Linked DNA regions of Homo sapiens: regions 1, 2, 4, 5, 6 and 7 are each linked to region 3. A link means that fine-mapping ties the variant in region 3 to the expression of a gene that starts in the linked region. Tissue or cell type: whole blood. Region 3 holds a variant in brackets; each other region holds the start of a gene. Each region is shown on its reference strand, or each on the opposite one. Region 1 holds the start of NLRC4 (NLR family CARD domain containing 4). Region 2 holds the start of NFKB2 (nuclear factor kappa B subunit 2). Region 3 overlaps CREB5 (cAMP responsive element binding protein 5). Region 4 holds the start of KLHDC8B (kelch domain containing 8B). Region 5 holds the start of NCF2 (neutrophil cytosolic factor 2). Region 6 holds the start of PPIF (peptidylprolyl isomerase F). Region 7 holds the start of RNF13 (ring finger protein 13).

Region 1 (4,064 bases), not on the chromosome of region 3:
ACCATTATTAAGGGCCCACCTGGATCATCCAGAATTCTCTCCCCATCTTCAGAGCCTTAAATGGAACATATCTGGAAAGACACAATATTTACAGTTCCCAGGGATTAGGATTTGGGATATTTGGGTAGCCACTATTCAGCCTACTACAACCATATTTCTACATTTTCCCTTTTTATTCTATATTACATCATTTATTAGTACAAAAGTAATAGGTGTTTGCTATGAAGAATTAGAATATACAGGTTGGGCATGGTGGCTCCCGCCTGTAATCCCATTACTTTAGGAGGACAACACAGGTGGATCACTGGAGACCAAGAGCTCAAGACCAGCTTGGCCAACATAGCAAAACCCTGTCTCTACTAAAAATACAAAAAATTAGCCATGGTGGTGGCCCACACCTGAAATCCCAGCTACTTGAGAGGCTGAGGCACAAGAATTGCTTGAGCCTGGGAGGCAGAGGTTGCAGTGAGCCAAGATTGAGCCACTGCACTCCACTCCAGCCTGGGCAACAGAACGAGACTCTGTCTCAAATAAATAAATAAATAAATAAATAAACAAATAAAATAAAAAATAAATAAGTTGATAAATAAAATTAGAATATACAGATAAGCCAAAGACAGAAATTTAAAATTGCTTATAATTGTATTCCCCAGCAATAAGCATCATTACTATTTTGGTGGCTGTCTTTGCAGTTTTTTCTCTTGAACATATGTTTATATATAGGTTTCATTACAATTTAAAAATCTAGCTGATAGTGTAGCCCTCAATCTCACTTCAGAGAAACCCACCTCACAAGTTGGGAAACACTGACACTGATGCCCCCTTAGAAAACCCAGGATGTAGACATTTATTTGCCGGGAAACTTTGGTATCCCTCTATGGCAGATAGGCTACTGTCAGAATGCTCTTTTTGAAATAAGAAGTTATGTAACACAAAGACATGTTCCTGGTAGTTTATGCAAAGACAGAGGAAAGAGTATGCAAGAATGTCATCCTCAAGGGAAGTGCAGAGAGATTTCTTCAGTCCTCAGCTGAGTATAAGCTGGCCTCCTGGAGTCTGTGAACACAAACGTCCAATGTGAGTGTGCCTGTGCAAGCCCCTGGCTGTTTATACTCCGGAGGGTGTCCCCGTGCGTCATCGGTGGAGTGGACCAAAACTGGTGATCTGTTTGCCCTGTGTGACCTTGCCCAGAACCCTGCTGACTGAGAGAACACATCTGCTGGAAGTCCTCTGGGATTCAAGGTACAGGGGTAAGCATGACCTTGAATGCAGTAGCAATGTGCTTTAGCCAACTAAGCTGGCTCATTTCATTTACCGCTCTATCTCCCATGGTTAAGCATTAAAAATACATGTTGTGGCTGGGCATGGTGGCTCACGCCTGTAATCCCAGCACTTTGGGAGGCTGAGGCTGGCAGATTGCCTGAGGTCAGGAGTTCGAGACCAGCCTGGCCAACATGGTGAAATTCTGTCTCTACTAAAAATACAAAAATTAGCCGGGCATGGTGGTGCACGCCTGTAGTCTTAGCTACTGGGAGGACTGAGGCGGGAGGAACGCTTGAACCCGGGAGGCAGAGGTTGCAGTGAGCTGAGATTGTGCCACTGCCCTCCAGCTTGGGTGACAGAACAAGACTCTGTCTCAAAAAAAAGAAAAAAGAAAGAAAAAGAAAAAAAATATATGTTGGATGTTCAGAAGACTTTGTTTCATTTTAAGGTATAGAATAAGTAACTCAACAGCAATGAATTCATATGTTGTGAACAAACAGGAAACAAATGAGTAATTCCTTTCTTGACGGAATTTCTAGCTCTTGCATCTTTTACTCTGAAGTTCTACTTCTTCCCCGGCTACTCCTGCCTACACCCATCTTCCCTTTCTGAACTGGTAGTACTTGTGTCCAAACCACTCTTACTGTGCTTTGAAAAAAAAAAAAGGAACTGCTCAGCAGTTCCCCTCTCTGTACACTGTCCTCTCACAGAACAAGAAGGTATCTGGTCTACAAGAACTCGAGGCCTCACTGAAACGGAAAGCAAATACAAAGAAACTTTATTTTAAAAACATGTCTTGGTCTCCCAAGAAGAGGGCAATTGGATTGCTCAGCCAGGTACTGTGGGTAGAGAGAATGGGATTTTTAAGGTCTGGGGCCCAAATATTAAAATCTGGGTTTACATTCATTTAAAGCTTGTGTCTGGGATGTACAAAAGCCTTAACATTGACGAGTGTGATTTGCATGCCTGGCTGGATTTGCCTGCCGAGAAACCTTTAGGGGTGGTTAATCGGGTCTGCTGGGGCTTCATCAGGTTCAAGGGGTACATGTACCCCTTGGACTACTGTGAGATGGAAAGGACTTTGGAAACACTTTTTGGCATTACAGAAAGGAAACTCACTCTTTTTTTTTTTTTTTTTTTGAGACAGAGTCTTGCTCTGTCACCCAGGCTGGACTGCAGTGGCGTGATCTCGGCTCACTGCAACCTCTGCCTCCTGGGTTCAAGCAATTCTCCTGCCTCAGCCTCCCAAGTAGCTGGGATTACAGGCACCCGGCACCGCGCCCCAGCTAATTTTTGTATTTTTAGTAGAGACAGGGTTTCACCATGTTGGCCAGACTGGTCTCAACTCCTGACCTCGTGATCTGCCCACCTCAGCCTCCCAAAGTGCTGGGATTACAGGTGTGAGCCAACGTGCCCGGCCAGGAAACTCACTCTTGTTGCTAAGACTGTTGTTAGAATCACAGATGATCAAAGCTGAAAGGAACGAGGTGGACTACTTAGTCCATCCAATCTCCCAAGTTACTGATGAGAAACCTGATATTTGGAGACAGAAGTGAAGGAAATCACCCTTTACGGGACACCTATTTCGTGATAGGGTCTTTATGTACATTATCTCAGTAGATCCTTGCAGCCTGGCTTTGAGAGGTGGAAAATGTGGTAGAGAGGAGTTAAATGTCCTGCCCTACATCACACTGCTAATTGTCTACAAAACTAGGATAGAACCTGGTCAGCACACTTCTTAACTGTTCACACACTTTTATAATATTAGTCGTATTAATGTGTTTAAAATACCATAGACTGGGTGGCTTAAACAACAGAAATTTATATTCCCACAGTTCTGGAGGCTGCAAGTCCAAGACCAAGGTGTCAGCAGGGTTGGCTTCTCCCCACGCCTCCCTCCTTGGCCTTTTCTCTCTGTATGCACATTCCTGGTATCTCCCTTTGTGTGTCCCGATTTCCTCTTCTCATAACAGCCTCATTTGAGCTTAATGACCTCTTTAAAGGCTCTGTCTGCAAATACAGTCACATTCTGAGGTTCAGGGCTTCAACATATGGATTTGGGGGAAGCCCAGTTCAGCACATAACACTAATATTAACATGTGAGATTGCTGAAGCCTATTAAAGACCTAAGAACATTCTAGTCTAGAGCCTTTTTACTAGAAAGGAAGACAGATAATACCCACTGACCATCTTTGTCACAACTACTTTCATGTTTAATCTTCACAATAGTCCAGGGAGGTGAATATTATGCATGATTTGGAAAGCAAGATTCGGAAAGGCTAAGTAACATGTCTAGGGATACTTACCTCATAAGGTGCAGAGTGAGGATTTGAATTCAGATCTGCAATGCCAAAGCCCACACACATTTTCCATTTCTGTGTGCTTCCTGTCTGCTCCTAATTATATGTACTCTTTCCCTTATTTTATCTGTGAGGTGTGGGAATGACCCCATAGACGTGGGTTATATGGGTCCAGAGAAACTTCAGTTCTCTGAGGAGCTCATGTAACCTTTTTTAAGAAAATGCCAATTTTAGAATTAGTACTAAATATTATTTTCCAGCTGGGCATGGTGGCTTATGCCTGTAATCCCAGCACTTTGGGAGGCCGAGGCAGGCAGATTGCCTATATATATATAATATATATTATTATATTATTTTCCAATGTACAAATGTGGGGGAAGGACTTCTTCCACCCAATTCAGTTATTCACTGGACAGCTTGCGGGGAGGGGTTGCAGGGCCATAGCTACATTCCAAGAGAGTACACTGGTCTCAGTCCTATTCTTTTTTTTTTTTGTCTGAG
Region 2 (4,064 bases), not on the chromosome of region 3:
CCCCATCATGTTCTTCTTAGTCACATGCAGGACACCCAGGTTGTTAAATCTGAGAAGAGAGAATCGGAGGCCTTTGGCCATGCAGTTCTTTCTTCCTGAGGCACCTTTCCCATTGCCAGGGCTCAGCTCAGCCTTACTTCCTCAAGGAAGCCATTGGAGTTTCTACTTAGGCCCTTGGGTTTGGGGCCAACCTACATCTTTCCCCTTGGTCAGATGCTAAGCTCATGGAGGTGGGCTGGGGCCTGGGACTGGCAGACGGGCATACCAGTGGGGGCCAGGCGTAGAGGGCACCTACTGGGCAGTCATGTCCTTGGGCCCCACAGAAACGGCGCAGATCCCCAGCTCCGAGCATTGCTTGCCCACCAGACTGTGGGCATGAGCACGAGGTGGGTCACTGTGTGTTACCAGGTCCACCTCGATCTTGGCTGGTCCCTCGTAGTTACAGATCTAGGAGAGGCAGGGACTGTCAGTCAGGGCCTTGGGCATGCTGTCCACTTAGCCCACCCTCCAGCACCATCCTGGCTCACCTTGACAGTGGGATAGGTCTTTCGGCCCTTCTCACTGGAGGCACCGGGCAGTCCTCCATGGGAGGGGCCTTCACAGCCATATCGAAATCGGAAGCCTCTCTGAAGGTCCAAGGGCATAGTAGCATTGTGATCAGGGAAGACCACCCAGGCCAGCAGTGACCGCAGTGCCTGGTAGTAGCCCTGAACCAAACTACAGCACTCTGATCAGCAGCAGTGACCATCCAATCCCCTGTGGCCTCCTTCGGCAATGGCTCCTCCATGGCCAGCCAGCTACCACTACCCCATTTGTCCCCAAAGCTGAAGCCATTCCACACCCTCCCTTTTGCTCACTCACCTGCTTAGGCTGTTCCACGATCACCAGGTAGGGGCCATCAGCTGGGGACAGAGAGACCTTGCTGAGCCACGATCTCCCAGCCCCTCCCCCAGAGAGAGGGCACATGCTCTCCCTCCCCCGCTTTAGGACTAGGGGAGGTTAGTGAACTTGCTGACCTGTTTCTGGGGCTGGCTCCTTGGGTTCCACAATGGAGGAGTTCAATTTGAAATCATCATATTCAATAATACCATCCAGACCCTGGTTTGGAGACAGACTGGGGGTGGCATCCGACTCTCAGCACCCCCCACAGCCCCACCTCCCATCTCCAAGTCTTCAGTGGTCACTCCCCCCTCCTCCTCAGACCCAAGAGAAAGCTCCTTTTGGAGGCAGAGTTGCAGACAGATGGACAGACTGGCAGGCTGAGAGCATCTGCGAGCATACAGGTGTAAGGCAGCAGAGGGGGCTCGGGCAGACAGGTGGACAGACACGAGGGGCAGCCGGCCGGGTCAGGGGCAGGCGGCATGACTCACTGGGTTGTAGCAACTCTCCATGTCTCTGGGCTAGGCCCGGCTCTGTCTAGTGGCTCCGGCCAGGTTCTGCTTCCCAGAATTTTAGACGCCCGCCTAAAGTTGGGAGGAGTGGCGTGGGGGAGGGGGTCAGATCTAAATGGGGGTGGGCGGGAGATGGGGGCCCAGATTTGGGGGAGGGTCCGACCTCCTCCAGCCGCCTGTCCGGGTGTGGCGGGTGAGATCCGGTGGAGAGCGAGATCCGGAGTTGGGCTTGGCCGGGGAAGGGGCAGGAAAGTTAGAGCAGCTTAGGAAAGTCCCGAAAATACCAAGGGGAGGCGGGGCCGGAGGGGGCGGGCCTGGAAATGACGCCACTGGCCCCGCCCTCGCGACGGGAGGGGCGGGAGGCCCTCGACAGTCTACGGGCTCCCGCTGCTTTTCAGCGGGCAGAGGTCTAGGAGAATCCGGGAAGCCCCGGTGGGGGTTAAGCCCCCTCCTCCCTCCAGGGCAGGGAACAGGAGGGTCTTTCACGGCCGGGAGGAGGCTGGCAGTCTGGGGCCAAGTCCGCCTCCCGCTCCCCTCCCCCGGTCTGGAGCAACCTTGGGATTTTCTGCCAGGAGGGAGGCCACGGCTGATAAACCCCGGGGGCTTTTGGGGGGACATTCCTGCTGTCGGACGGCCTCCCCTTCGAACAGCCTGTAGGCGGGGGCTCTTTCCTGTGGGAGGCCCCGGGGTTCTGCCCCGAGAACGCGATTCTGGGGCTGCGGGAAAAGTGTCTCCTCCTCGGAGTGGGCTCTTTTCTCTCTCTCCCAAACCTCACAACAGCAGCTGGTCCCACACCGCACCGGTTCTGGGCGCGCAGGCGACAGGGAGATCTCTGCACGCTCCCCCCCCCCCCCCCCCACCTAATACAAGAGTGTGTCTCCATCACAGCTCCACAAGTGTGTTTCGGCTGTAGTGCTTGGTTGCATGTTGTGTGTCCATGGCGTCAACATGAGTGTGCAAGCGAGCATGTGTGTAGATAGGTGAATCCCGAGCTTCTCAGTGTGGGTGTGTGTCAGCGCCTGTCTTGATGTACGGACACGGGTGAGCGTATCTTGAGTTTGTGCGTGAAGGGTGTGGGTGCAGGCACCAGTGCACCGGTGGGCACGTCTCCGTGTGCATGTGTGTGCGAGTGCGACTGCACGGACGCTGCCGTGTGTGCGCCAGCACAGGTACAGGTGTACGTACGGGTCCGCGTATCTTTGTACAACGGTGTCGACGTGGATCCGAGTGTCGTCGCCTGCGCGCCCTTTCCGGCTGTGTGCAGCTGCTGCTCTCCAGCCCCAGGCGCTGTCCGCTAAAGGCCCTCCTCCCTCTTTTCTCTTGTCCCGGCCACCCAGGGGTCTGAATCCAGCCACTCACCGTGGCGGCGGCTCTGGTTGCGGCTTCTCTCCGCGCCCGACCCACCTGGGACCGGTCGCGACACCTCGCCTGCCAGCAGGGCTCAGGGCCGGGAAAGCCCCTTCTCGGCCCCCCGGAGGGGGGAATTCCCATGACGTTTCCGTGCGTCACGCCTCGCGCCCTTTTTCATTGGCTGAAAGTTTAACTCTGGACTGGCGCAGCCAACCCGGAGCGACTCGGGCGCGCCCCTGAGAGGGGACAGGCTCACTCAGGGCGGGGAGCGGGGTGACAGGACACCAGGCGCGAGTTCGGCCGGCCAGGGGACCGCCGAGAAGGTACCCGCTGACCCAGCGCCACCCCGGGCCGGGAGCTTCCGCTGCCTCTCGGCTTTGGCTGCGCCTAACGCTTGGCTTTCTCTGAAGCGGGGGATCCCCAGGGGGAAGCCGACGGCCCCAGCCCTCGGGGCCCCCACCCTGAGCGGCGCGCTGCCGGGAAGTTAGCGGAAGAGGAAGGAAGTTATTCTTGCGGTCGGTCCCGGGCGCCCTCTGGCGGCCTCCCTGGGCCCGCGAGTAGACTCCATTCGGCCCCGGCCCCTCTCTCGCTCCGTCTCATCAGCCTCAAGGCTCCGGGAGAGACAGTCCGGACCTCGAACTTTTTTAGAAGTGACAGGTTCCCAGCGGGCCAGGGCTCAGGAGCTCTGCTCAGGAGAAGGGAAATGAAGTGTTTATCCACCAAGGAGATCTGGAATATTAGAACTGAAAAAGGCATCCAGAGTTTAAACAGCTCAAATTTCCACCGATGTGGGAAATCGCCTCTTTTTTTTAGTCTCAGGCTGGAATGCAGTGAGGGGATTTTGGCTCACTGCAACCTCTGCCTCCCGGGTTCAAACCATTCTCCTGCTGCAGCCTACCGAGTAGCTGGGATTACAGGCGGCCACCACCACGCCCGCCTAATTTATGTATTTTTAGTAGAGTTGGGGGTTTCACCACGTTGGTCAGGCTGGTCCCGAACTCCTGACCTCAGGTGATCCGCTGGCCTCCGCCTTCTAAAATGTTGGAATTACAGTCGTGAGCCACTGCGCACGGCCTATTTATTTATTTATTTATTTATTTATGTTTTTGAGACAGTGTCTTGCTCTGTCACCCAGGCTGGAGTACAGTGGCGTGATCATGGCTCACTGCAACCTCGAACTCCGGGGTGCGCCGATTCTCTGACTCTCCTGAGTAGCTGGGGCTACAGGTGCACACCACCATACCTGGCAAATTTTAAAATTTTTAGTGGAGATGGATCTCACTGCGTTGCCTAGGCTGGTCTTAAACTCCTGGGCTTAAGTGA
Region 3 (4,064 bases):
CTCTGTTCAACTCATTCAGGTCTCTGTGCTAGAACAAAAACTCTGATCGAAGTGAAAAGAAATGCCTCTTCGGGCAAGAAGAGGAGCGGAGGGGCTGGGGAAAGAGGAGAAGGAAGAAGAGGAGAAACAAAGACGGGCAGAAAGGGAGAAGGGGGAGAAAATGAAGAGGAGGAGGAGGAGGACGAAGGCTCAAAAACAGAAGGCAGTAGGGGCAAAAAAAATCTATAAAATCAGGAGAAAAGAAAATAAAATTAAAAACAAACCTCATGGACATCACTGAGGCTGAATTCCCTCCTGAGGTGCAGAACATGAGAGCTCTGGAATGAGTGTGTGTAGAATTTGAGCCAAAGCTTAACTAGCTTGAGTGAGTCATATCCTTCCCATTTGATTCCAGGCCAAGCGATGATGTAATGTGCTGGCCCTTCTTTTGCGCCTAGCTCTGGCTCTCCCTCCGGCTGGGCTCTCGCTCACTTGCTCTCTTTCTCCTGGTCTCGCCCTCCTCCCCCTTCTCCTTTTTAGCTCAGTGCTAGTGAAGTCACCACTTAAATCTGGCAGAACTGAAGCAAAAACTTCAATGTAACCAAAACAGCCCCAGGCTGAGTTCCAGGCTCGGAGAGCCTTCGTGGTGCACTTGCCCTTAGAAACGGGTAAACAAAGGGGGAAACAGTGCCGCTGGGGATGGCCCTACAGCTGCCATCAGAGAGCTCCAAGAGGGACCCGGAGTTCTGCAGGCAGGGGTCAGCTGGTTCTGCTGGAAACAAAAAAAAAATACTGGTTAAAAAAAAAAAAAAAAAAGAGTGCCCTGTGTTTGGAGAAAGGGAAATAACATCAAGACACGTGTAGAGATGGGGAAGCAGGGAGTGAAAGATGGCAGGTTGGAAGGTCTGAGTGTGAAAAACTAACCTCAGTTAGCAGCTTGGGCTTTGGTTCAGAACCAGGTGACAGGGTTTCCATCGCCCAGGGCCCTTTTTTCCTGGAGCTGGATGGGATTTTCTGTTGCTGAATGCCAACCACCAGCCCTCCGGAGACTTCTCGCATCTGACCTCCCTGTCAGCGAGGGCAAAACCACTTCTGGTCCAAACACGTGCCCGTGTCTGGAGCCACCAAGGGCTGTGAAATCACAGTCACTTCTCCCTTGGCCCCTATGGGTCACCCTGTCAGGTGCTAAAGGAAAAAGACCCCAGCCACAAAACACAAAACTTGCCTTTCTGAGATTAGCACTCCACCCTCAGGTGAACCTTCCAAAGGAGAGGGAAGGAAGACAAGTTCTCCCTTAAAATGAAAGACAGGCTGTGCCCCCACAACTCAACTCGCTGGAGGGGGTGCTGGTGTGGGTGGGGCCGTCTGTGACTTTAAAGAGGAGAACAGACAGTATGTGTGTCTCTTTTTTAATTACAGAGTGAGGAAAAACAGCCTGGGGAGGTGGGGGCAGTCAAGCATGATCCTTCACAAATGACAGTGAAGCCTTTTTAATGGCTGAATTCTACCCCTCACTTCACACCTCCCCACTCAGGGCTCCACCACGACAATGACAACAGTCCAGACACTACTCTATTAGCAGGGCTTTTTAACCCCATCATCTCTCCGTTTTGCTATTTCTCCCCACACTTCATGTTTCCTTCAAAAAGAAAAAAGTAACATGAAAATGGGAAGTTCGCTAGAATTTTTTTTAAATACCACAAAAGCAGAAGAAAGGCATGAAG[C/A]TGCAATTTTTTTTTCCTTTTCCAAAAATGACCATGGCTTGTGCTACAGTCTATTGCCCCTAATGCCTTTTGTGGCCAATGAATCAGGTAGATAAGACAAACATTGTCTCTGCACGTTGCAAAGCACAGAGGATCTTGACTTCTAAACTGTGTTTTTGGAGAAATCTCTCAGCTTATTAAAGACGTCCACTGATGGAGGTCAGGGATATTCATCTGAATCCCCTGGAATTTAAATCACAGCTTCAGGGAGTGTTGCCGTACTCAGGGTGAAGAGTTAAAAAGCAATATTTGCCCAAGGGTCTCCAGGACCCTGGGGGTTGGGGTGGGGAAGTGCTTTCTCCAGCAAGCTGCCCTTTGGCTTGACATCCTCAATTGATGCTGATGCCACAGTAGCTCCGAGTGACACCTTTATCAAGGCAGGCAGCTCTGAATTAGAGGTGATCAGCCATAATTACAGCTGGCGCCACTGAAGCCTGTGGCCTGACAGCGGCAAATGTGGTTGTTATAAAGTTTGGTCCACCATGTCAGTGGCCTGTATAACTCATTTACGTCTGACTTGCCAAGCAGACATTGATTTTTCTTCTGCTAAGGGGAATAAATAAAACAAAATTTTCAATAACTTCTACAAGCCTTTACACTTCAAGGCAGGTTGGCAAGATTTTGCATAAGCTACTTTTTCCTTTTTAAATGAGCCATTGACCATCTTGGTTAATATCAAGCTATGGACTTTCACTTTCCCTTCCCTACCCCCCAAATCTCCCCTCCCCACTTTAGTTTTCTTATTTAAATGTTTTATTTATGTTACTATTTTTGGTGCAAAATGGATATGTGGTAGAGTTTTCCAAATTTACATCTTTTTGTAAGCTCAATGGGAAAATGTTCTCTGTAGGATTTTCCTTATACCACATTAGAGGGCCGGGGTGAATCCACTAGATACCAGGCTTCTGCTGTTTTTCAGTGACATAGGCAAAAGGGACCCTGTGCTTTAAATAGAGGTGATGTAAAGATGGCTTTCCTGTGCCTTGCTTGGGAAGTAACAAAGGAGATGATAGCTTCAGCCAATGCCGGGCACGGATCTCAGATGAGACCCGCCAGCATCATTGCTTCTGCCAGGAGGAGTAAGAGAACAAGAGGTTTGAAGGTGGCCAGTGTGCCTCTGATCAGGGAGTGACATCGCCAATGGGTACAGTGTTTCTAAAACCCAGACAAATGCCAAGGACCCAGAAATGTCTGGGTCTGATGATGACGCCGTTAAGCCACCAACGTGCCAGAACACTTCGACATCCCAATAAAACAACTTTGGAGTGCTGGCCTGAATTGAAATCAATTTCAGAGTTCAAAGGTCTGCATATTTACATTTGCACTTGTTGTTCGGGACATAACTATTCCCTCCTGCCCCTTCCAAATCAGGCATTCCACTGGCTGCTGGGTGCCTCCCCACTTGAAAAGAAGCCCTACTTTCCCATTTTCCTTCCTGTGAGCAGCTAAAGAGAGACAAGATCCTGTTCCCAAAAAGAAATGCCCCTCTGACTCAAGAGATTCCTTTTTCACCCATTTGGCCTTCTCCCCTACCCCATGTCCTAGCTGCTCCTCTGAAGAAGGGGGGCTTCGTAGATAGAAGTCATAAGATGCTGTAATTCCAGAGGGAGGCTTCTTAGAAGTAGCCCCCGGCCAACAGGCTAGGTCTCCAGATTAGCTGGCTTGCTCAGGAATGCTTACAACACCCTCCTTTGCAGAGCGTGTCATCCTTGGGGAGAGGGTGGTGGGTACCGCGCAGCTGTTCGGTGTAACTCACTCACACACTCCCAGCCCCTGATGAAATGTTCGGCTCCGAAGAAGTGGAAACCTTTGAGATTTGAGCTCAGAGTTCAGAATGCTTTTGGACTCTTTCCAAATAACCCAATAGAAAAGGCACAACTTGGATTGCAGGGATGGAGGGGCTCAACAGCCAACTAGAGTAGACCTTTTGTGTGCCTGGGTGAATTTCTGAGCTCAAACACGTTATGAGAAACATAGCAAATATGAGAAACAATGGAGATCCTTCCTAGAGAGAGCTGGGGTTTCCCCCCCCCCCCACTTTTAGGTTTGAATTTATTCTCCTCAAGGAAAAGTATATCATCTTCTTTCAAATGTTGTTTTTAAAATTTAACCCAAGATTTCTACAGTCCCGGTGGAGTTTGAGGGGCCAGATAATTTCAGAGTTAAATAAGCTGTAATGACTATCACATGTACCCAGCCATAAACCTAGTATTAAAAATTATTCAGAAAAAAGTGGCATCTCTTCCTTTTTTAATTTACAATAACCATCCAGGTGGTTTTCTAAGTCCTCCTTTGCAAATTGCTTCCAGTGAACCCTCTGGT
Region 4 (4,064 bases), not on the chromosome of region 3:
TACGACATGTCTGGGGGCCTTAGGGTAATGGGCCAGTCAGCTGGGGGCTTCCATGGCAACCATCCCAGATCAGCTTGGCCTTTGTCCATATCAGGCTCCCTGGCGTGTGGGAAGGGTTGGGGGTGGGGCAGGAAGTCTAAGCACAGGCTCTGAGCCAAGGCCCTACTCCTCTCCCCCACCCCAGACTATTTATAACCCTGGGAGTCATTAGGCCATCCCACCCCCATCTCTTAGAAATGAGGAGTGGGGCAGGAACATGGCTGGGGTCTCCCATCATCCTGGGATCGGCTTGGGCTCTGCCTCCCACCTTAGCCAGAAAAGGCAGTTAATAGAAGGCAGCAGCTCAAATCTAGGTTGGAAAGGATACAGGGGACAAGGCCACATCCTGGGCACCCATGTAAAAATTACAGCTCTTGTTCAGTCTCTGAGGGTAAGGGACTAAGTCAGGAAATAATAAAAGGTGTTAGGGTACCTGAAGTGCCTTCCTTGGGAGGCCACTCACCTCTCTCCACAGTTGCAACCCCCATGGCTGCTTGAGGGAGGGTGGCCCGACGCTCCCAGCGGCCCTCATCCATCAGGAAGGCCTCTACAGCAGCTACCGGGCTCTGGACCTCATCCACACCACCCACCACTAGCACCTGCTTGCCCAGAACTACCGCAGCTGCACCAGCCCGGGCAGTGGGCAGGGGTGCCAGTGCCAGCCATGTGTGCGAGGCCATGTCCAGTGTCTCAGCAGTGTCCAGGGGCAGTCCAGCCCGGCCACAACCCCCCAACACCAGCAGGTGCCCATCTTGGTGTGCCACTGTGCCATAGACCCGGCAAGTGGGCATGGGGGGGAACACTTGCCAAGCAAAGGCCCGGCCACCTCCTGCAGACATGGTGTTCACTGCCAGTGGCAGGCCATGCTGTCTGCTCAGACTGTAGGCCTCACTGGGGAGGCATGACAGGGCCTCATCTTGATTCTGCCAGGGCCACAAGAGGTATATGACCAGTCCAGGGACCTTGCCTTCACCTGGAGGAAAGAGGGAAAACAGGGGTCAGGGCACTGACCGGCCCCTCAGGAAACAAATAAGCAGCCTGTAGCTAAGGGCAGGGCTGGCCCAAAATCACTGGTGGGAAAGGCAGGGGGAGAACCCAACCCCTCTGGCTAGCACACCACTGTGGAGGCCCTCCTGGAGTGGGAAGGAGGGCAGGCCCCAGGTACCCAGGAGCCTTTCCCCTTTCCCATGGAGGCATGAAGGATTCTCCTTCTCACCCACTACCCAAACCACTCAGCAACTGGGTCAAATCTGGGTCTAGGAGGGCAGTAGTAAGGTGACTAGAACAGGACTCTCCATCCAGGACCCTTCCTTTCCCCTCAACAAGCCTCACGCTGGTCCTGCATGAGGGGAGTCCTTACTGGCTTCCAGGGTGCCCTGGGCAGCCTGGGGGTCCCCACGCCTGCTGTCAGGGGTCAGACTCCAGAGTATCCTTACAACATCCTGGGGGCCATTCCACAGGGTTAATTTAAACCATTCCCACTAGTAAAAGACCAGAGTCAGGGTGTGTTTCAGACTAGGGGGAGGACTAAACACCAGGGTTCCACACTCTCCTCTCGAGGTCCCCCCTCAGGAGTTTGCCCATTCCAAACCCCCCCAGAAGCCAGATTCCCTGGTGTCCAGAAGTGGGGTTGGGGCGGGGGGCCGTTGGAGAAATCTCATGACCACAGGACTCCAGGGTCTGAGTCCAGGGCGTTTCCACCAGGAATGGGCAGCTGGACTTCTGGGTTCCCTCGCAGGAGATCCCCAAGTTCTCCAGCCACCCCTTTCTCTTGGTGGCTACACTCCTGGACCCCTGGCAGGAGGGCCTCTTGGCCCCAAACTTCCAGCTCAAGGATGTGGGGGGCGGGTCTGGGCTAACGCGCTTGGGGTTCTACACCCCGCGCCCCAAACTTCCCCTGAGCGCGGTTCCCGCGGGACTCACCCGCCGGTGCTCCGATGCTGCCAGGGTACGGGGTCCGCCGTTCCGCCTCCGTTGACGCGGGATCTGGCTGGGGCTGAAGTCGGGCTCTGGCGGGGCTCCGGCACTGCTCCGGCGCGGGGCGGGGCTGGGCCAGGTCCGCCCCTCGCCCCCCTCCCCCTCCGACTCAGGGAAACCTCCTCTCGCCTTAACCCTGCACATGCCGCAGCTGGAGCAGGGCGTGCCGATCTACGGTCATATGCAAACGGACAGATAAACGGACACTTGGACACTGGGCCTGACAGAATTTAGCGTCCGACCTCGGGCAAGAGTAGAAATGAGGCAGCGGCGAGCGACACAACACGTGTATGGCAAGGGGCAGTTCTGAGCCCGACCCAGCCTGGGTGCGCAGGCTGTGTCGAGCAGGCCAGCCGAACCCGAGGGCTTGAGGGGCCGGCGCCTGCCCACCTCCGCGGAGCTCCCAGGAGCCCAATTACAGGCTTCCCGGCGGCGCCCCCTGGAGGCCACTGGGGACATGGCCTGGGCCTCTGTCGTGTGGGGGCAGCCTGGGGCGCCCTTACCTGGGCATAAAGCAGGAATAGGTCTTACAGTGTACACTGAGGCTAGCGGGGGTGGAGGAACAGAAGGCACTGGCCCTTCTACAAACCTGGGTGGGGAGAATTCCTGGAAGGAGTGATACTGAGCAGAGAATGTGCTGGAAGAGTCAGAGGCCAGGGGACCTCCCAGTGGGTCACTCTGGCCTCATCCTGTAGGGCCTGAGAGACCTGGGCTACTCTGGGACCCAAGGCACATTATAACTATCAATTTTTAGTATCCTGAGCTTGCCTCTAACCAATTCTGGGGTCAAGCAAGAGCAAACTAGTGTGACAGGGGCCCACCTACCTCAGGCCCAGACCTTGGCCCTGCCTATCTTCTGAGCATTCAGAGTATTAGCTAAGTCTTCAAGCTGAGGGCCCATTTGTACAGGTCAGTGGTACCTGTGGGAAGAGGTCCTTGCAGTTGTCTGTGTCTGCTCACTGCCTTGTCCCCCTTTCATGGACAGTGCTTATCTTAGTTTCCCCCAAAGCAGACCTGGACAAAGATATACATGCATATAGTTAGTATGGGAGGTGAGGCCAAGAAACACCAGCAGTGGCAAGGAGACAAGGAAAGCAGCCAATAAAGGAAGTGTCATCAAGCAAGCTACCACTGTGGGCCATTGGGACCAAATCCTGCTGGGGATTCTGGGAGCCAGCGTAGAACATAGGCCTTACATCATTGCTGCCCCCAAGAACAAGGGGAGCTGAGATACTCATTCTCAAATCTCCATTAGTCATGGGTTGAGAGCTGTTTGGGGGCATTACCTATTAACTCCCTGGCCTCCCTCACATCTGGCCTTCCCAGAAGTCTATGGGTAGACCCTCCCGCATGACCGGAGAAGAGAGCCTTTGCTCTTTTCAGGGACTGTCAGTTGGATTCAGTCGGCCTGCACAGAAATGGTGGTGCCAAGGCTGGTTACAGACTGCACAGACCCTGACTTGAAGGCCTCAATCCTCCTTGTCCCACTTCACCTTGGACTTGCTCCTCAGTGCCCTCACTTGGGGCACTGTTTCCACCCTCTTGTGATTGCCAATAGGCTTCCAAGAGGCTCACACTGCTCTGCAGCCCCCTTCACATTTGCTACTGTTCCCTTTCCAAGCTCCCTCCTCCTCCTTTCCAGCAATTAAACACTTACAAGCCACTTGCCTTTAGATACCTCCCAACACCCCAAGTCTCTCTAGTCTCCCCTTCCTCCACTCCAGTCAAACTCTTGAAGCCATCTGTCCTCACAGGCTCCACCTCCTTGTTACTTGTCACCTCAATGTGCTGCCACTCCTCCCCAAAAATTGTTCTTGGAAAAGTCATCATGAAATACCATATAGCTAAAACTATATGTGCCTGTGGTCCTTAACTAAATCTTGCTAGCATCTTCAAAGTTTTGCCCCTTGTGACCTCAACTCCCTCCTGCTGTTTGTCCTGCCTCTGAGAATCTTTATTTTTTATCTATTTATTTTTTTTTTGAGACGGAGTCTTGCTCTGTCACTCAGGCTGGAGTGCAGTGGTGCCATCTCCACTCACTGCAAGCT
Region 5 (4,064 bases), not on the chromosome of region 3:
TTCCAAGGAGCCCATGAATTGAGCAGATAAAGAGATAAATTGCAGTAAGTATGATGCAAGTTTTTGGGTAAAGGTGGTACAAAGGAGAGGAAAATTCTCCTACTACCCAGAGTTCAGGGCTAGATTTAGCACAGTTGGTGACATTTAAACTGGGCTTTGAAAGATGAGTAGGAGTTTGCCAGGCAAAGAAGAGAGCTGGGAAGGCCTTGTAAACACAGGAAAACAATCTGGACAAAGACACACATGTCTTCTTAATTCTCACACCTTCAATCCTACAAGCACTGTGGAGTATACATTTTTAAGTTTTATTTTCAGGCTTTTAGGGGAAGCTTGGTGATAATGAGTGAATTCTTTCAGTTGCTACAAAACAAGAGTTTGCATCTAAGTATTTGACCCCCATAAACATGCATTTTACCTAAAAAGAAGCCTGGATTTTAGCAAGCCAAATTGGCTATACCCTTTACCCCCAGTTATTCCTCTGGGAGGTTTTACTGATTTTTACTTTTCTGGAAAAGCAAGGAAAGAACTCTTAAATCTGTTTTTTCAGAGACTAGTAAATCCATTAGTCATCAGTGCAGGACTTTCATCTCTTCAATTTTTCACTGGAAGATGGGAGAAGTCATAATTCACTGTCATGTGGCTCCCAATTTTGACATTTGCAGGAAATTGGTCCCCTCTGAACTTCATGAATGTTCATAAAAGTTATTTCGGCTGGGCACGGTGGCTCACTCCTGTAATCCCAGCACTTTGAGGGGAGGCCGAGGAGGCCGAATCACCTGAGGTCAGGAGTTCGAGACCATCAGCCTGGCCAACATGGTGAAACCCCATCTCTACTAAAAATACAAAAATTAGCAGGGCGTGGTGGCAGGCTTCTGTAATCCCAGCTACTCAGGAGGCTGAGGCAGGAGAATTGCTTGAACCCAGGAGGCAGAGGTTGCAATGAGCTGAGATCGTGTCACTGCATTCCAGCCTGGGCAACAAGAGTGAAACTCCGTCTCAAAAAAAAAAAAAAAAAAGTTATTTCAGGCCCAGATCAGATGGATCTCCAAAGATTATCCTGTCTCAAAAATTTGTTAATGATAATTTCAGCTCAAGATAAACACTAACATATTAATACAGCCTATGGGATTACAAAAAAGTGAGCAAGGAATTCATTCAAGACTGGAAAGAATTATCCTCTCATCTGACACTCCCATTTAACAAGGGTGTGGAAATCAAGGCCCAGTGACACAGGATTTTTTCTCCATCACTTTGTAAGCCAGGAACCTCTGGCTGGTGACACCCTGCCCAGGCCTCAGTGGGCCACACTACCTGCTGCAGGAGATGGCCTGCCCACTCGGCCTGGGTGGGGAGTTTTATTGAGTGATGAAAACAGCTTTCAGTGGAGAGGGGATGCAGGGGTGGTTCCCCTACCCAAAGGCAGGAAAGTCCCCCCAGTGCGGGTGAGTCTGGGGCTTTTATGGGCTCAGAATAGGGGAGGGGCAGGACATAGGTAGTACTGGAAAAGGCAACATTCAATTGGTTAAAAGGCATTAGTCAGAAATAATTAATTGGGAAAGAGCAGACAAACAGGAACAGAAGTTCTCACTCTAGGTCACGGGTTTCATTTGGGACCAGTAGCCTAGTCTTTCAGCCTTCAGGCTGTTTTTGGCTTGAAGGTGGGGTTTCACCAGGGACCTGCCCCTATCTGCCTAGGCATTTGGCTGCCTCCTGTCATTATCACCAGGGAGGTGCCTCTACCTGCCAAGGTTACCCTGGCTCTAGAAGCAGAACTTTGGCCAGAAGCTGCCACAGAACAGGGGTGGGAGAGAGAAGAGGAGCTGGGTGACAGAGCAGAAGCATTTTGGGGAACTGATCCTTCAGGCAGCAGCTGATGTACTTCCTCTCTCCTCCACACTCCACCCCTACTCGCCCTCTCTCTCTCTGCTTCTTTCCTTTTCTCTCTCATGGTAGGGTTATGAGTCAGTTGCCAAAAGGTGGGGACATTTCCTGATGCATTTGCAACACTGAGAAGTTATCTTAAGGGAGGCTGGGCCCCATTCTACTCATCTGGCCCAGAAAGTGAACACCTTGGGGGCCACTAAGGCAGCCCTGCTAGGGGAGACGCTCCAACCTGTCTTCTCTCTGTCTCCTGGCAGCTCTCTTGGCCTCCTAGTTTCTACCTAATCATGTCCCTGGTGGAGGCCATCAGCCTCTGGAATGAAGGGGTGCTGGCAGCGGACAAGAAGGACTGGAAGGGAGCCCTGGATGCCTTCAGTGCCGTCCAGGACCCCCACTCCCGGATTTGCTTCAACATTGGCTGCATGTACACTATCCTGAAGAACATGACTGAAGCAGAGAAGGTGAGTGGAGGTGCCTCTTTCCGGGCCTCCTCTGTGCATTTGTTATTATGATTCTCAACCCCATTGCATTTCGGAAACCTAACCTCTGGGGAGATTGAAAAGAACAAAAGTTGCCCAAGCTCCACCCCTAGACAGCCTGATTTAACTGGTCTGGGAGGGGCCCCAGGCAGCCAGTTTTAAAAGCTCTCCAGGTGGAGAGCAGGTGAGGGGCAGCCAGGGTTGCCTCTTTCTCCATCTTCTAAATTAAAATCATTCTACAAGTGTCTTTAACACCTTTGTGAAGGCTGTCCTAGTCGTACTTTCTTCTACACAGAACTCCTTCTGGGCACAGAATCTCTATCTATCCCAGCGCTTTACACCTGATTATTGATTCTAAGGCACCTCTTTTGGCTTTCCAAGACTTTCATGTGTGTCGACTTTGCCTGCTCAAGAGATTTAAGGGAGGCACTTACAAAAAATAGCTTTTATCCCAAGTGACAATTCTGATCAATTATAAAGGAGACTCTTTTAAAGATGCTGAGGCTGGCAAGAGGAAATTGTACTGTGATTGACTAGTGATGTCTGCTGGGGGCATGGTGTGGGATGTCTCGCATCTTTTTCGTTATGTTTTCTCACTCAAATACCATAGTATGGAGTTAAGCATTCTCGATAATTATTTTTTTGATTGGTTGTGGTAAGGTGGAAAGGGTATGGAGTTTGGAAGGAGAAGATCTAGGATCGAATCCTAGCCTCTGTCTCTCTCTGGACTTTTAGTCTTAAGCAAGCTATGTAGCCTATGTAGACATCTGGCTTTCAGCTTCCTGAGTTTCTAAATATCATGAAAATTAAGTGAGATGCCAAACTATTAATGTCTCGTGGAACTTCACACCACTGTATAAGAGTTAGTTATTATTTTTACCGATTACTGCCAGTCTTTGCAAGGTGTGGCAGTGGTTGACTCCCCAGGTCCCTTAAAGAATCAGTCCCTTCCACACTCCAACAGTAGGTAAACAAGCCTCAGCCACACCCTCCTGACAGGAAGACAGAGAAGTGACTGAAATGTTCTCACATAGCTTGACAAGTCAATCTCAGGCTCTAAGGCAGAGCATGGCAGGACCCCCCACCTCTGGCTGGAGGAAGGACATGGCCCCACCTCCTCTCAGGGGCCTGCTGAGGGGCTGAGTGAACAGCACCACACATTCTGAGGGCTGATGGACACAAAGTGCACATTGTCCAGGAGAAGAGATTGGCAGCTAGTCTGGGCACAGCTATGCCAGCAGGGACTGTAGCCTCCTGCCTTGGCCTGGATATGGGATCCTTGGCAAGGTTGTGTGGGCCACCACTCACTTCTCAGCTCCCAGGCCTTCAGGCCCACATGTCTCTGTTTCTCCTGGCATTCCTCTGCTTCTAGCCTTCTCATTCCTTCTGCCTTTCTTTGTTTTCCTGCTTGAGCCCTTCCTACTAGCATTTATATGCATTCTTATTCATTATCATTTTAATTGTATACTATTCATGTATAAGTTTGTATAGTAAACAAATATAACAATTTATATAATATTTTAATTATTTTCATTTGCAATAAATTTTATTATTTATTTAAACTGAATGTTCAATACATTCATAGGAATACAAGAAATGCAACAAGGGTTAAAATTTCATTATTACATTAGATATCATTTTTTCTTTCTTTTTTTTTTTTTTTGAGATGGAGTCTCACTCTGTCACCCAGGCTGGAGTGCAGTG
Region 6 (4,064 bases), not on the chromosome of region 3:
CCAGCAGTGAACAGGGGGATAAAGACTCTGGCCCACCTCTTGGGTCTGCTCTGCCCAACTCGCTATGTAACTGGACAAGTCACTCCCCTTCCCTGTCCTCAGTACCTGAGCACTGTGACAAGAGTACAGGCTCATGGCTGTGCTGGCCAGCAGGGCACGGACTCAAGGGCTGTGTGCCCATCACCCTGCCTCACTGGGCACCAGGAGTGGGGAAGTCTCCGGGAAATTTACATGTGCCTTCCACTGGCTCTGAGGCTCCCAGCTACTATGAGAGAGGAGGGCAGAGCCAACGTTGAGGCCCAGAGAGGGATGGCAGGGCTGCCCCAGAGCACCCAATGGCTGAGCCACACATGGAGCTCCCATCTGTCAGGGGTCTCTGAGCCCCGACTCTTCTCATCACGCCACCCACCTTGCCCTGCCTGGCCCCCTTCCCTCTAGACCCATCTCAGAAGGCCCCAGGCCCTGTCTTACCAGCTGTCTTTGGGACGACATCTGCCTTCAGCTGTTGGGGGAGAAGAAGGACAAAAGAGGATGGTCATTGGAGAGGCAGGTGAAGGTGGGTGTCTCTCAGCACCCACCCACCCCCACAGTGGCCAAGGAGGCTAAGGAAGAAGCACGTGGACATTCCATTCCCATTATTGCCAACCCCCATGGGAGGCAGCTCTATCATTTCTGGGAGCCGTTTCCTGAACCCAAGGCTGGAGGAGGTGGCCTTGGTTTCCTAATCTGTCAGAAGAGATGACAATGCTATCTTGGCCTACTTCTGTGGACACAGCTGGCAGTGCTCCCACAGCTGGGCCCAAAGCATCAGAAATTCAGGGACAAGAGAGTGTGTCTAAGGTAGAAGCCAGACCAGCTCCTCCATTCGGGGTTGGGAAACTGAGGCCCAGGGAGAGGCATGAGGGTGTGGGGAGGGAAGGCTGAAGCCCCATCCCAGCCAGCCTCTACCCTCGAAGCTGCAAGACCCACCCTGGAACCAAATGGAAGCAGGAAGGGTGTCCCTATTTTCCAGAAGAAACTGAGAATGAAGAAGAAATACTAAGGGCTCCCTGGGATACGGGCCAGTCAACACAAACAGACCCCTGCTGTCAATGTGTGGCCGACCTGAAGGCTCCACTAGGGCTTTCCCTCTAAAGCTACCCTGGTGACTGTTTCTTACTTTGCTTTAGAAAAGACCCAAAAACAGAGTTAGGGGAGGTGCTCAGTGTGGCCCCCAAGGACAGTGGCAGGGGTTGAGGCGCCGGGCACACTGTCTCTGAGTGTGTCCCGACTCGCAGGAGGGGCATTCTGGGGTCCACCAGGTGGCCGGGGCCTGAGGCCTACTGGGCCCGCACTACTGCTGGAAACCACCTCTCGCTCCATTTCCCAGCACCCCCAGTGTGAGCCCGACCGCAGGGGCGGGGCCGGAGCCAGGAAGCGCTCCGTGTTGTGCAAGGGCCGCCACGTGAGCACCCGCTGGGCCACGACGCTCACCCCAAGACCCCCGACACCCACCTCGGAGCTCCGGATCTAGGCTCAGCCCCAGAAGGCTCCTGGAGCCCCTCCCTCGTGCCCGGGCCGGCCCAGAGGTGCTGAGCCCTCCCTCTCTGCGATCTGACCTTGAGCTTTCTCCTCCACACGTGCCCTCCCTCCCGTCTCCCCCGCTCCAGTGCTCCGAGGGAGGCCGGAAGAAATCATTCTGACGCCCATTCTCAGAAATGGGGAAACTGAGGCCCAGAGCTCGGCATGGGGAGGCCCAAGGTCACCCAGCGCGCCCGGCACCGCGCCGCCCGGGGCCCAGGGCTCTCCCCGGGCCCGTGTCCCGCGCCCAGGCCGGCCCTGCGAGCGGTCTCACCTCCAGCACCACGCGGCCGAGCGGCTTCCCGTTGGCGTCCACGTCCAGGTACACGAGCGGGTTCCCGGAGGAGGAGGAAGAGGACGGGTCGCCGGAGCCCTTGCTGCAGGCGCGGGCCGCGGGGAGGCGCAGCGGCACGGAGCGCGGGACGGAGAGCAGGCCGAGCCAGCGGGAGCCGCAGCGCAGCGCCAGCATCGCGGGCGCGGGTCGGGCGGGACACGGGCGGGGAGAACACAGAACTCAAACTGACGTCGCGCGCGCCCAGAAGGCCGAGTCCCGCGCAGCCGCGCGCCGCAGCCTTTATTGGCTTGCCCAGGTTCCCGGCCCTGCCCCCGTCCCGCCTCCTCCAGGCCTGTCCGTGGACTACCCCTGCCGGCCGCAGCGGGCAGCGCAGCCAGCCGGTGGGGCCGCGGAGCGTGAAGTGCTTTGAAACACTCCCGCCTCCAGGCCCAGAGACCCGGAGAACAGACACCTGGCAAAAGGTTGCTGGTTCCATGTTTATTAAGGTACCAGCAGATTTTTTTAAAAAAAGAAAAACTGCTAAAACGTAATTAATTCCAAAATATGAGCATCTATACGTTGCAATTTGAATATAATAGCAAAAGTCTACCTTTGAGCCCTTTGCAGGTAAGGCTCAGGCCAAATAAGCTTCCCTGCTGCCCTAGGTCCTGCAGTCTGAGAGGGTTAGAGAAAGGTGAGATGAGAGGCGGGATTAGTGAGCTAGAGGCGCAAGAGGGAGGAGATAAGCTGAGACACCTCCCATGATGCCCCCTAGCCTGCTTGTCCCGGCCTGGGCCTGTCTCTAGTTGTTTCTGGGGACCAGACCTGCTTCTAGCAAGACTGAAAACGCAGCCTGGGCTCATCATGCTCCTTTCAGGCCCCCAGCCCTCCCCAGGACTGGGTCTGATCCCTCCTCCTAGGACCCACACTGACAGCCCCGGGGCAGACTGCCAGCTGCCCCCTCCCATCAGCATGCACCCTGGGAGGGGACTCAGTGGGGAGACCCACAGCAGGAGCATTTAAACCCCACGTGCTGAAAGTGGGCTTCCCAGCAGCCAGAGCCACCCTCACTGCAAGGTGGTGGGAGGTCTGCAATAAATGGATGCCACGCAGGGACCTGAGAGAGCATCTGGCCCAACACTTGTACTGTCCCCAGGGGAAGCTGAGGCCTGGACACAGGAAGGCACTGGCTAGGGCTAGGGAGCCCTGGAGTATTGCTACCAGCTTGCACCAGTGCTCCAGGCCTCTCTGGGCCTCAGTTTCCCATCTGGAGGGTAAGGGTGCGATCATGCTCCTCATCCTGCTTTTTTCTCGTGTCTGTTCTTAGGATAAAATGAACGAGAGAGACATGGATTTGTCAACTAAGTACTGTGCCTGTGGGCATCTGTGATGGACAGAGTCTGGACTGTCTTTCTCACAGTTTGGGATTCAGAGAGCTGCGGTCTCAGTTAGAGGCCTGAGGGGTCAGAGAAAGGGGTGGGGCTGAGCCTTGGAGGCAGGTGGGCAGGAGTAGGGACCAGCTCTGGACTGACCTGCCCCAGATCCTGAATGGGCTCATGGGAACAGGTCAGGCAGCAAAATGCCAGCCAAGCAAATTCATGAGGTCAGAGCAGTGCCCTAGCTTCATAAGAATGCTAGCTTGGCCTCTGGAAGTTTGGCTAGCTTGGCTTCTGGAAGTTCATAGCCCCCTTCTCCGATTCCTGGCCTAGGAGGGGCCTAGGCACCCAGTGAAGCCCAGGTGGGATGCATTCCAGGTCCCAGCCCAGAATGGGGCCTCACTCTGCCCTGGGGAGCAGCCCCTCCTTTCTTATGATTGTGCCCTGAGGTGAGCAGGCCTGAGTGGGGAGCCCACTTGAGCCCTCAGCACATGTCCCAGACCTTCCTCTACCAGTGCATCCTGTGGATTTGAGAGTGGAGGAATCACGCCATGTGCCTTGTCATGAAGCTTCCTTAAGGCCCCAGGCTTCCCTGCGGCCAGTTCCAGGCCCTGAGCTCACAGGACCTTCAGCCACAGCAGGTAGCTCAGCGTACCCTGTTGTTTCTCAAGCCTGCTCCTGGGGGGACTCAGTTTATGCCCCATCCTGATGAAGCATGAGCATCCCCACCCCAGGGGAGTGCTGCCTTCATTCACTTGACCACTTCAGTTCTCAGAACCCTTTCCCAGCTGTGAACTCTGCCTGAGAGACAGCTCTGTTTTGCAGATGGGGAAGCCAGGCCCCAGGGGCTGGGG
Region 7 (4,064 bases), not on the chromosome of region 3:
AAAAAACTAATAAAACAGTTCTCATTCCCTACATAGAGAAAAATAACTGTGCCTCTCTCCAACAGTTTCCAACAAAACAAAAAAAAATTATGTAATAGACAAATTTTGTTTCATTTAATCCTCATAACAACTCATTTCTTATTTACGGAAAATGTCACAGAATTAGTAAATGGCAGAGCTGAACCCAGCTTGACTCCCAAATTTGGAATTTAGTATTTTGAAACATTTGTTTTTGCCATAATCCATAATACACTTTACATTTCCATCTTCCTCTTGACACACACATACTGTTAAAAACTGAAACAAAAGCTTCTTGCCATAATATTTACTTTTATTCCATACAATGTCCTCTGGTATTTTTTCTTTCTTTATAAAGCTTATGTCAATGTACTAAATTGATTCTAAAATCTATTAATGAATCCTTATGGGCCCTGCACTACAGCACTGCACTACACTTCCTGCACTACAGCACTGCACTACACTTCTTACCTCCTGTTTAAAGTTCTTTTTAATTGCTATCACTGTCCAGTTTTGTTACTTCGAGATGGAGCTAATGTCCACCCATTAAAAAACTGTGCTTAAATAGCATAAACTCTTGAAAGCCCTACCTTAAATCTTGAATTGATCTGTTTCTCCAGAAGAACTCTTTGGAGGCACAGCCACCTTACTTATTTATATTGTATCAAAAACTGCAGATGTTCTCCTTGGAGAACAAACACATCATTGTTGAAAGGAATGCATCAGTTTTCACTGTTTCTGCTGCATCACTGACGAACAGTAATAGCCGGGCAGGTTTGGGGCAACAAGAGAGGACCCGAGCAGCTGCCCACGGTGCTGAAACTGATGATGAAACGACAGTTTTGGAAATTTACTATTTACTATTGTCAGATTAGGACAAAATAGAGGAATTTACCAGACACTGGCAGAGAAAACTGAGTGGCCGCCACCAAAGTTGCATGAGTGCTTCCGGGATACTGCTGTTTGGCTTCGATGTCTGCCCACTCTCTCTTTCTCTCTGGGACAAAGTTATTTAATAAGTGCAAGTCAAGTCAAGTCAAGCATACAGGCAGAGCTGCTGACTGACCGTAGTATCTGGCCCTAGCAGGGGTTAAGTCCCAAACCTGCAATCTGAGCTTCCAGGGAAAGAAAAAGGGGGTGGGGGTAAAAGAGAGGAAGTGACTGCCCTCCTTCTATTCAGAGACAAAACAGCCCCCTCAACTAAAGTCAAGCGATGTGCCCGAGGACGTTGCGGCAGGTACTTGACCAAGAAAAGCCTTCCAAACATGTTTTCCAGGCAGGCTCTTGCAGCCTCAAGAAGGGAATGAGAGAAGCAAAACCGGTAACTCAACTTTGGACACACACAAACTCGCGGAATGAGAGTGCAGGGGAGACTCGGTCCCCCGAGGGCAAGGCTATTTTATTCCTTTTGCAAAAAGCCTAATTGACTTCTCACCCAGCTCTAGAGGAGCAGCAAAGACCTCAGCAGCAGGGCCGACTCCGAGCTCGAGGGCCAACAAGCGGGGTATGTTCTCTGGGCCGCTCGATAACGAGCTGCCCGGCTGCCGCGAAGCCGGACAGGGTCTTACCTTGAAGTCCGGCCCCCGCAACACAAACAGTCTTGCCAGCCGCGTCGCTGCGGGAGAAGTCCCTACCCTGATTTCATGACTGAATATCCGCACCGACCCCCACAGCCCGGAGTACTAGCAGGGACGACAACACCTAGGCGAAGCGGAAGTCCCGCCCCACGCGCCTCATTGGTCCGCACCCAAAGGCACAGAAAACCCACTGGGCAACATGGTTGCCTGTTAAGGCTCTTTCCCACTCTCACGCGGAGTCTCGCTACTTGCTCTAGCCCGGCTCGGAGAAATGCCCAGTTTGCGAGTCTCGTTCTTGGCCGCGTGATCCGTCTTCCCTGGAAGGGAAGAGCAGGGTGGGGCAGGCGTCTGCGGAACTGGAGCGCGGCTGAAGAAGCTGCTCTTGGCAGAGGAAGGGGCAGGCTGGCAAAGTGGATTGGCTGTGGGCGCCTGCCGCTAACCATGTGCCCCTAGAAACGGAGACCGTAGGGTCTGGAGGGCGCGGGACCGAGCGGGCAGGGCCGGTCGGTCTGATCTGCTCCGGCTGTTGGGACAGAGTAGCCCAAGATTCGGCTGCCGGGCTGCCCCCGGGCGGGCCTGGCCCTGGCGCTGACGCGTCTCTTCCCTGCACACTACACTCACCCGACCTACTAAAGAGGCGAGGGCGAGGCCTCATCCGCCCGCCTTCCGTACCGTGCCCAGTCTGAGATCAGAGTGGGTGGGGACCGTGGCCACACCTTAAAGTAGGGCTCAAATTGTTAGAGATGCGAGCGGCCCGAGGTCTGAACGCCAGTCCCCTGAGGCCTGGCTCGGATCCACGCTGGCATCAGCACTCTGGGCCTGACACGCGCCATCCCCGGGGCTTAGCAAAAGTCAAACCATGTGATTCAGGCCCTAGGTCAGCCTTTTAAAACCCTTGCCTCCTTTTGATGAACCAAAAATCTCCTCCCCTGCCGCCCTTCTGATAAGCCTTCCTTTCTGGTTGTCTCAATCTTAAACCAGTCGAAACTTAAATTACCGGATTGTACCATCCACATTGATTAATCATTGCCAACTCGCCACCTTACAAAAGCAGTGTGACTTAGGCAAATATTACAGAGTCCTGAAAGAAATGTCAGGAGACATAGAATCAGGCACTACTTCTGCTTCAAATAATAAGGCACCCTTAATAAGGCCTTTACAGGCTTCAACTCCTTCAACATCATCTTTTAAAAATGGTGGCGAGGAGGCTATCACACAGAGTATTAGTAGAATACCATTGGATGTAACTTGTCACTTTGATTGCTTGGAGAGCCCTGAGTAGGTGGGACACAGCAATGGGGAAAAGACTCTTTCCTTATTGTGTATCCTTTTGTGCCTTTTGAATTTTGAACCTTGCAAATATTACCTACTCAAATAAAATTCAAATACAAGAAATTTAAGATCAAATTTTAAAAAATTAAATAAAAGCTATCAAAGGTACTTTCCTCTTCTGTGTATCCTATGAGTATTCTATGTAGTCTTAACTTTTCATTGGTTGCAAAGACATTCAATACTTAAATCACAATTCTGCCTTTAAGAAAGTCATAAATAAAAGTCAGCATTGGGAATATTACTAAGAAGACTAATTAGTATAAACACATTTATAATATCTCTATAAGCATTTTTTTCATTAAATTATCCCAAATTGGTATATTAAATCAGATTTCTTGCATAACATCAAAATAAATTTTTTTAGGCCGGGTGCGGTGGCTCATGCCTGTAATCCCAGCACTTTGGGAGGCCAAGTCAGGCGGATCACTTGAGGTCAGGAGTTCAAGACCACACTGGCCAACATGGTGAAACCTCGTCTCTACTAAAAATACAAAATTAGCCGGGCATTGTGGTGCACACCTGTAATCCCAGCTACTTGGGAAGCTGAGGCAGGAGAATCGCTTGAACATGGGAGGCAGAGGTTACAGTGAGCTGAGATCCCACCACTGCACTCGGGCATAGGCAACAGAGCAAGATTCCATCTCCAAAAAAAAAAAAAAAAATTAAGTCCACAGAGAGGAGCTTTGGGTTTTGTTGTTTTATTTTTATTTATTTTAGAGACAAGGTCTCACTCTGTTGCCCAGGCTGGAGTGCAGTGGTGAGATCATGTCTCACTGCAGTCCAGAACTCCTGGGCTCAAGTAATCCTCCCACCTCAACCTCTGGAGTAGCTAGGATTACAGGCATGTGCCACCAGGCCTGGCTAATTTTTTTATTTTTTTTAGCCTTACAGTCTGGCTATGTTGCCCAGGCAGGTCTCAAACTCCTGGCCTCAAAGGATCTTCTTGCCTCGGTCTCCCAAAGTGCTAGGATTACAGGCATGAGTCACCACGCTCAGACAAAGAGCTTTGCTTATTCCTTAAAGGCACCTTGAGTACAGAATATTTTACTTCTGGTTTCAACCTGCTCTTCAGATAACAATAGGTATAGTTCTCTCAACTATGAACAAGGTAATGTGTCATTTGTACTGCATTTAGGC

What was found.
Region 1: NLRC4 starts here. The variant in region 3 is fine-mapped to the expression of NLRC4 in whole blood (TOPMed, PIP above 0.99).
Region 2: NFKB2 starts here. The variant in region 3 is fine-mapped to the expression of NFKB2 in whole blood (TOPMed, PIP above 0.99).
Region 4: it holds the start of KLHDC8B, and the variant in region 3 is fine-mapped to the expression of KLHDC8B in whole blood (TOPMed, PIP above 0.99).
Region 5: NCF2 starts here. The variant in region 3 is fine-mapped to the expression of NCF2 in whole blood (TOPMed, PIP above 0.99).
Region 6: PPIF starts here. The variant in region 3 is fine-mapped to the expression of PPIF in whole blood (TOPMed, PIP above 0.99).
Region 7: it holds the start of RNF13, and the variant in region 3 is fine-mapped to the expression of RNF13 in whole blood (TOPMed, PIP above 0.99).

Annotation. Positions count from the first base shown.
Region 1 is chr2:32,262,773-32,266,836 of GRCh38, reverse strand. It overlaps NLRC4 (NLR family CARD domain containing 4), which reads left to right and starts at 1,951. Exons shown (of 9, transcript NM_001199138.2): 1 at 1,951-2,099.
Region 2 is chr10:102,393,287-102,397,350 of GRCh38, reverse strand. NFKB2 (nuclear factor kappa B subunit 2) reads right to left here and starts at 1,646. Exons shown (of 23, transcript NM_001322934.2): 1 at 1,555-1,646; 2 at 1,371-1,463; 3 at 1,017-1,098; 4 at 862-902; 5 at 528-626; 6 at 296-447; 7 at 1-49. The coding sequence starts at 1,391. RefSeq lists enhancers at 1,051-1,170, 1,581-1,630, 2,681-2,970 and a silencer at 2,981-3,380.
Region 3 is chr7:28,682,397-28,686,460 of GRCh38, reverse strand. The region is part of intron 5 of CREB5 (cAMP responsive element binding protein 5); the gene reads right to left. Among named protein-coding and RNA genes, the nearest start is that of CREB5, 270 kb to the right of the region's middle. RefSeq lists enhancers at 534-1,042, 1,259-1,308 and a silencer at 981-1,150. The variant C/A (reference allele first, on the strand shown) is at 1,704.
Region 4 is chr3:49,169,584-49,173,647 of GRCh38, reverse strand. KLHDC8B (kelch domain containing 8B) reads right to left here and starts at 2,050. Exons shown (of 6, transcript NM_173546.3): 1 at 1,963-2,050; 2 at 503-1,012. The coding sequence starts at 878. RefSeq lists silencers at 2,035-2,134, 2,355-2,524.
Region 5 is chr1:183,588,434-183,592,497 of GRCh38, reverse strand. NCF2 (neutrophil cytosolic factor 2) reads left to right here and starts at 2,039. Exons shown (of 15, transcript NM_000433.4): 1 at 2,039-2,342. The coding sequence starts at 2,169. RefSeq lists enhancers at 1,310-1,649, 1,760-2,019.
Region 6 is chr10:79,345,514-79,349,577 of GRCh38, reverse strand. It overlaps PPIF (peptidylprolyl isomerase F), which reads right to left and starts at 2,109. Exons shown (of 6, transcript NM_005729.4): 1 at 1,835-2,109; 2 at 472-502. The coding sequence starts at 2,029. RefSeq lists an enhancer at 1-361, cis regulatory regions at 1,128-1,628, 1,311-1,811, 1,340-1,840, 1,843-2,365, 1,833-2,365 and 5 more and silencers at 1,676-1,905, 1,926-2,335.
Region 7 is chr3:149,810,876-149,814,939 of GRCh38, reverse strand. It overlaps RNF13 (ring finger protein 13), which reads right to left and starts at 1,725. Exons shown (of 10, transcript NM_183381.3): 1 at 1,587-1,725. RefSeq lists enhancers at 1,882-1,991, 1,857-2,368 and a silencer at 2,202-2,351.